2 separate regions of the Homo sapiens genome follow, and region 1 is linked to region 2. Evidence: fine-mapped expression QTL. A gene starts in region 2. The other region holds a variant in brackets. All regions are shown on one strand. Distances are from middle to middle. Region 1 overlaps TRPC4 (transient receptor potential cation channel subfamily C member 4). Region 2 holds the start of TRPC4 (transient receptor potential cation channel subfamily C member 4).

What was found. PIP is the estimated chance that this variant, and not a neighbour inherited with it, causes the effect.
Region 1: its variant is the best candidate, but not a certain one, in a credible set for the expression of TRPC4 in lung (GTEx, PIP 0.64).

Annotation. Positions count from the first base shown.
Region 1 is chr13:37,690,311-37,693,228 of GRCh38, forward strand. It overlaps TRPC4 (transient receptor potential cation channel subfamily C member 4), which reads right to left. Exons shown (of 11, transcript NM_016179.4): 4 at 1,689-2,025. Among named protein-coding and RNA genes, the nearest start is that of POSTN, 93 kb to the left of the region's middle. The variant C/T (reference allele first, on the strand shown) is at 1,092.
Region 2 is chr13:37,868,248-37,871,165 of GRCh38, forward strand. It overlaps TRPC4 (transient receptor potential cation channel subfamily C member 4), which reads right to left and starts at 1,525. Exons shown (of 11, transcript NM_016179.4): 1 at 1,348-1,525. It overlaps LOC124903160 (a long non-coding RNA gene), which reads left to right and starts at 896. Exons shown (of 2, transcript XR_007063762.1): 1 at 896-2,419.

The DNA.
Region 1 (2,918 bases), 180 kb before region 2:
TTCTTCTTTTCTTTCATTTTTTGAGGCAGAGTCTCACTTTGTCACCCAGGCTGGAGTGCAGTGGTGTAATCTTGGTTCACCGCAACCTCTGCCTCCCAGGCTCAAACTATTCTCCTGCCTCAGCATCCCAGGTAGCTGGGATTACAGGCTGTGGCCACCATGCCCAGCTAATTTTCACATTTTTAGTAGAGATGGGTGATACTCCAACTCCTGATCTCAAGCGATCCGCCCGCTTTGGCTTCCCAAAGTGCTGGGATTACAGGCATGAGTCACTGTGTCCTGCCCGGCCTGACCCTTTTTTCTAATTTAAACAAGATCACATTTTACCCACTTTAGATTAATGAGAACCTACTCTATTTTAAAGTTCACCTGAGGATTTTGTTTAGTTATATAAGTAAAACATCAAATCTTGTCCCTATTAACTTTTCTTATTGACAATACTTAAAGTATGGTTTTTATAATTTTTAAAACTGAAAAACATATTTATCTCAAATAGGCTGTCTTTTTTTTTTCTGCCTTGATGTCATTTTAGTTTCTTCAGCAGTTTTGAGAGTTAACCCAAACTGATATTCTGAGATTTTGAATCATGAAATTTGTCACATATTTTCTAATAGCCAAATGATGAGATAGATATTATAGCAGAGAGGTTTAAAATAATGAGCTAAATTGAGAAAATGTGATTTCTCAGCAAACCATAGTATGATAGAGAAAAGGATAATTAAAATGCAAATTTTAACCATGGCTATAATAACAAGGAGAAAGGAAAACAAGGTTTTCACTAGCTACATTTTTTTCCTTTCTTTTTTTTTGAGACAGAGTCTCACTCTGTCGCCCAGGCTGGACTACAGTGGCGTGATCTGGGATCACTGCAAGCTCCGCCTCCCGGGTTCACGTCATTCTCCTGCCTCAGCCTCCCGAGTAGCTGGGACTACAGGCGCCCGCCACCACGCCCGGCTAATTTCTTTTTGAATTTTTAGTAGAGACGGGGTTTCACCGTGTTAGCTAGGATGGCTACGATCTCCTGACCTCGTGATCCGCCCGCCTCGGCCTCCCAAAGTGCTGGGATTACAGGCATGAGCCACTGCACCCGG[C/T]GGGAAAACAAGATTTTCACTAGCTACTTTAAGGTTTTCTACTTCACAGTGATTTGCTTCAGACCCAATACAACTTTCTATGACAAGAACAAAAAGAGAGTGGCGGATATCCTGTTGTTTAATTTCCTGTTATTTTAAATTAATATAGATTTCAAAGATAAATTTGAATGGATTGATTTTTTCAAAAGGTTTCAGTTACTTTATGTATAGAATCACTAATTCTTCAGAGTAATCTGCATGTACTTTTAGAAGACTTATCTATTAGGAATATTAGAATGATTATTTACATATAGTCAATGAGATATGTTGAAAAGTTTTAATAAACAAAAAACTCAGAGGGTCAGTCGTGGAATATGAAGTCATTAAAATCTGTAATTCTAAAATTTAAGGTTACGTTTCTTAAGCTGATTTTGTAAGCGGGTCCACCGCAGCTTGTAAAATAGTTGTTTGGCTTTGGGGGTGAGGTTCTTGGAGCTACAATAGTCAGAACCTATTCTAAACATTCCTAGGTCCCAAACATTAATGAATATTTTCTGAGCAACGAAATTCCGTGGCAGTAACATGTTTTTATTATATTTTCTATAGTAACACATTTACCCAGGACCCACGGTAATATCATCCACTCGACGATGGTTGGTGGTGGACCTTGCCTGTTCAAGTCTGACCTGTCGATGTGCTGAGAGGCAAGCAGCAGCAGGAACAAAAAAGTCAAATAGGAGGCTGTGTGGCAGATAAACTTGATAAATGGCTTCCTGATGAACAGTCCAAGTGGGCTTTTGGGAGCTATCAGGTAGCACACAGAGAAGACAGGAAAAAGAAGTCCTATTATGAAACATGTCACCATCTTCACTGCCCAGTGTCTTCTCCTCCAGCCTGGAAACTCATCGTACCAGCGAGATGCCAGCAGCTGTTGACAATTGGGCTGGGCAACAAACTAAACAGAAGGGAAAGGAAAAGGAAAAATAAGTCACAGTTACATGGAGTGGCCTCAATTCATCAATAAGAACACAATTGTGATCTTTAAAGACAGAAATTCTGTTTCACATAATTTTACATTTAAACAATCAAAAGGCTTTAAGTCATTCTGTGAATAAAGCCAATGTATTGAATATTTATTCTACCCAAGGCACAGTATGACATGCTTAGTGAGACATAACTGAAGTCAAAATACTGTGGCTGCACTTGAGGAAGCAAAAATAGAACTGGGGAATACGAATATGCAAAAGATACGCTGATAAGTGAACAAAGCAGTTTATAAAGATACACACCTATATACACATATATAAGAATATATAAGTGTGGCTCTTTTTTGATATAGTTGTTATCTCTTGGTTACAACATTACACTTAATTTTTATTTTTATATTTGTGTGTACTTTTAACAATTTTCTATAATAGATATTTATTACTTTCATCATCAGGAAAAGCAAATGAACTTTTCTTTATGAGGTACAAGCTAAATATACTTTTAATTGGGTTGAGGCAATATGAAAAACAGATGAAAGAAAGTAGTATTCACCAGAATGTTAATCATCATAGCTTAATTCGGTATAAACAATGCAAACACCTTACCTAAGTATACCTAATTGCCTTATACAAAACATTTCACAGACATGGCATCATTCTATCCTGACAACATTTTTGTGATGTAGCATGGACACTACTTACTGTATGTTAAGGTTACATATCTATCAAATTATGAGATGTTTGAATATCTGGTCCAGGATTTTTTTCTCAATATCTCTTTTTTTCTCAGTATTTCTCAGATTTTTTTTCTCAACCTTTCTCATTGGGATTGTCAGTTAAGCAATATATGAATTAAGAGAAA
Region 2 (2,918 bases):
TTCAGAATGACCAGTGAGCAAGTAAATTGAAATTGATCTTATTGTTTTTTTTCCCCCCTTAAACATTTAAGGAGGATGTTTTCTGGACAATAGTGTCCAGGTGAATAAGAAAGTAGGCGCTACAAATGTAACTTTAAATAGCAAACCCAACACAATGATGAAGATTTCAACATTTTAACATCTCCACCCACTCTTACTCTCAATGTCTAATTTAGAGTTTTACCAAAAACACCCCAAACCAAAAAACCCTCCAGTAAACCTTTTGCTTAAAGAATTTGTAATATTCTTTGTGCTGTGATTATGTACTGTGAAAGGAAAGGCAGAAATTATATGAGCTCTGAGAGGCGGTGTTTTATTAAAACTGAAAAAGTTTTACAAGTCTGTCTATTTTTTTTTTTAATAAAACAACTAAAGCTTCCTTCTGTCTCTTCCTACTCCTTTGGCTTGGTGCTTACTCCTTAAGCAACTTGCTGCATTTTATAGCTATGGAATTTCACTGGGAAGGGCCTCTCTAAGAAGCCATGTGAACAGGGATACACCATAGTGGATACACCATAGTGAATGCAGGCAGACAAGATAAGAGATCCCTTTCCTCAGCTCTCCTAAACCCTCGATGCCTTTCCAGTATTCTCTTGTCTCTAGTCGCAAAAGACAGCTGACTTCACAGCTGGAACAACAAGTTGTGCAGTGAATCCCAGTGATTTAACCAAGTAGCAAACCGGGTCATTGGCTTCATTGGCTTCATTGGAATCTCGGTTGCCAGGCGAACTAGGAATCACTAGCCTGGGTCGGGCAACACGGATAAAAGTGTTTCTGTTTCTTGACAGAGAATGAAAACGACGCAGAATGTAATCGATCGGTAGAACATTGATCACTCTCCTTCCTTCGTTACCCTACTTTAAGTGCCGGAGAGCTAAGGCCTCACTTATATGCACCCAGATGCCCCCGAGATCTCCATTTTCCCCAAATGCATAAAAGGCTAAAAACGGCCACATTCCCCAGCACCACGGCGTGGCTGCAGCTCCTTTGTTTACCATATAAGTCACACCGGGGGTTCACTCCTCGCCCTCTCCCCTGCTTTAAAGCCGAGTGCGGCGGAAGACTGAGGAGCACCCCCAAACTCCTGCTCAGCCCGAGTCAAGCACCGAAAGCTTCACAGGTTTTTTTCCTGAGCCTTGAAGAGAAACCACATAGCCAGAACCTTTTGAACTCCTAACCCCGCAGGGATGTCCGCCTCCCAGAAGAGAGCCGGCTTCCCAGGCAGCTTAGGAAACTTAACCGAGATCCCAGAAAGAAGGCGAGGTGTAGCTCCGGTCGAACGGAGCCCCGAGGCGACATCCTCTTTACCTGCAAAGTTGCAATCTTCGGGCTGAAGTGATGGGATCCGAGGACTGACGGCGCGGGTGCCGTGCGGGGTGAGAGCACGCCCGGCAAATTCCAATGGAATTCCCTTAGTCGCTGCTGAGTTTTGGAGCATTCCAAGGAAAACGATCGAAGCTGGAGCCCACGCAGCTGGCACCGAACTGGGCGGAGTGAGGATGCTCTGAAAGCGAAGCCATGGGAGGCGGGGGAGGGGCGGCCCGGGAGGGGGAGGTAACCGCCAGGGGAGGAGAACCTCTCCCACCCCCGCCTGCACAGATCCCTCTGGATAAAGTTAAGAGTTCCCACGGCTGACAGCGGATGAGCCCAGAGAAAGGCACCCCGCCCTCCGTCCCTGGTGGCTGCCGGGCTCGGGGTCCGCACAGACCGCGCTGGAAAGGGATAGTCCGGGAAGATGCGCGTCCCACGCACCACACTGCTTGGAGGTGGAGGAGACCCGCGCGCTGGCAGGAGCTGACGCTGCGTCCCCAGCTTGTCCCCCTCGAATAGCCTCCACCTACCGGGGCCAACTGCTTGAGGTCAGCCAGTGGGCAGGGGAGCTCACCACCAGCCAGCCGTCATCCAGCCAAGTCGGTGGCGAGAATCCACCCTGTGGTTCTGGATGCAAGCCAGACACACCTCCAGGCTTAGGGCGGTCTCTGCAGGCGTGTTGGACTTCAGTGCGCTCCGACACCCAGCTTTTGAATGCCCTGCTCCCAGCCCGGTAAACAAGCACCCATGAGGCCCGCCGCCCGACCGGAAAAAAGTAGTCCCCTGCAACTCTCAAAGCTTCTCCCACTCCCGCTTCTCTGGGCGACTGGCACCCCCTCTCCTGTCCTCAAGGTGTCAGACTTCCCTTGCAAGAGCTGGAGGATGCGGCTTGCCACTAGTGTCAACAATCAAAACAGTCGCAATGAATAAATGATGAGCCACAGCGTTCCAACCACCCTCATCCAGCTTGGTCTTTCCAAAAGGCATAGGAAATCAGCAAGTTTCCACCAAATATACCAAAACCCTAAGACGCGAGCCAGCCCAAGGGTGCAAGGTTCTGCGGCTGCAGGTGATGTGCGTGTGTGCGAGTGTGTGTGTGTGCGATACTGGTACCATCTTACTGAGAGTGAGATTTCAAGATAAACGTTATCTCTTGTCCAATCTCTTTAGTGTTCACATATGAAAATAAGATTAAAGTACAGAGAGGAATACACACACACACAAACCACACACACACTATTGGCAAAGTTGGCAATAACACTTGCTGTAACTGCAACACGGTGATTCCCAGCTTGTCACTCGGAAAGTCTTAATTGGTTGTGACCCCATGACCCAGAGAAAGATAGAGTTCACGTGTAAGATAGAGAGTGGAGCCCTTGAGGAATCCTAGCTGGCAATTACCCTCCTCGAGACTCTGTTTCTACCTGATTGCCGTTATTTTCTGAAAGCCCTGAGGTTAGCTGCTGGTCTCTGATTGTATCCCAGCAGACGCCTGATTCAGCTTCCAGTCTGCGCAAAAGCTTAGGAGCAACCGTTTTCTCCTATCCCAACCAAGTTGTTACACCTGG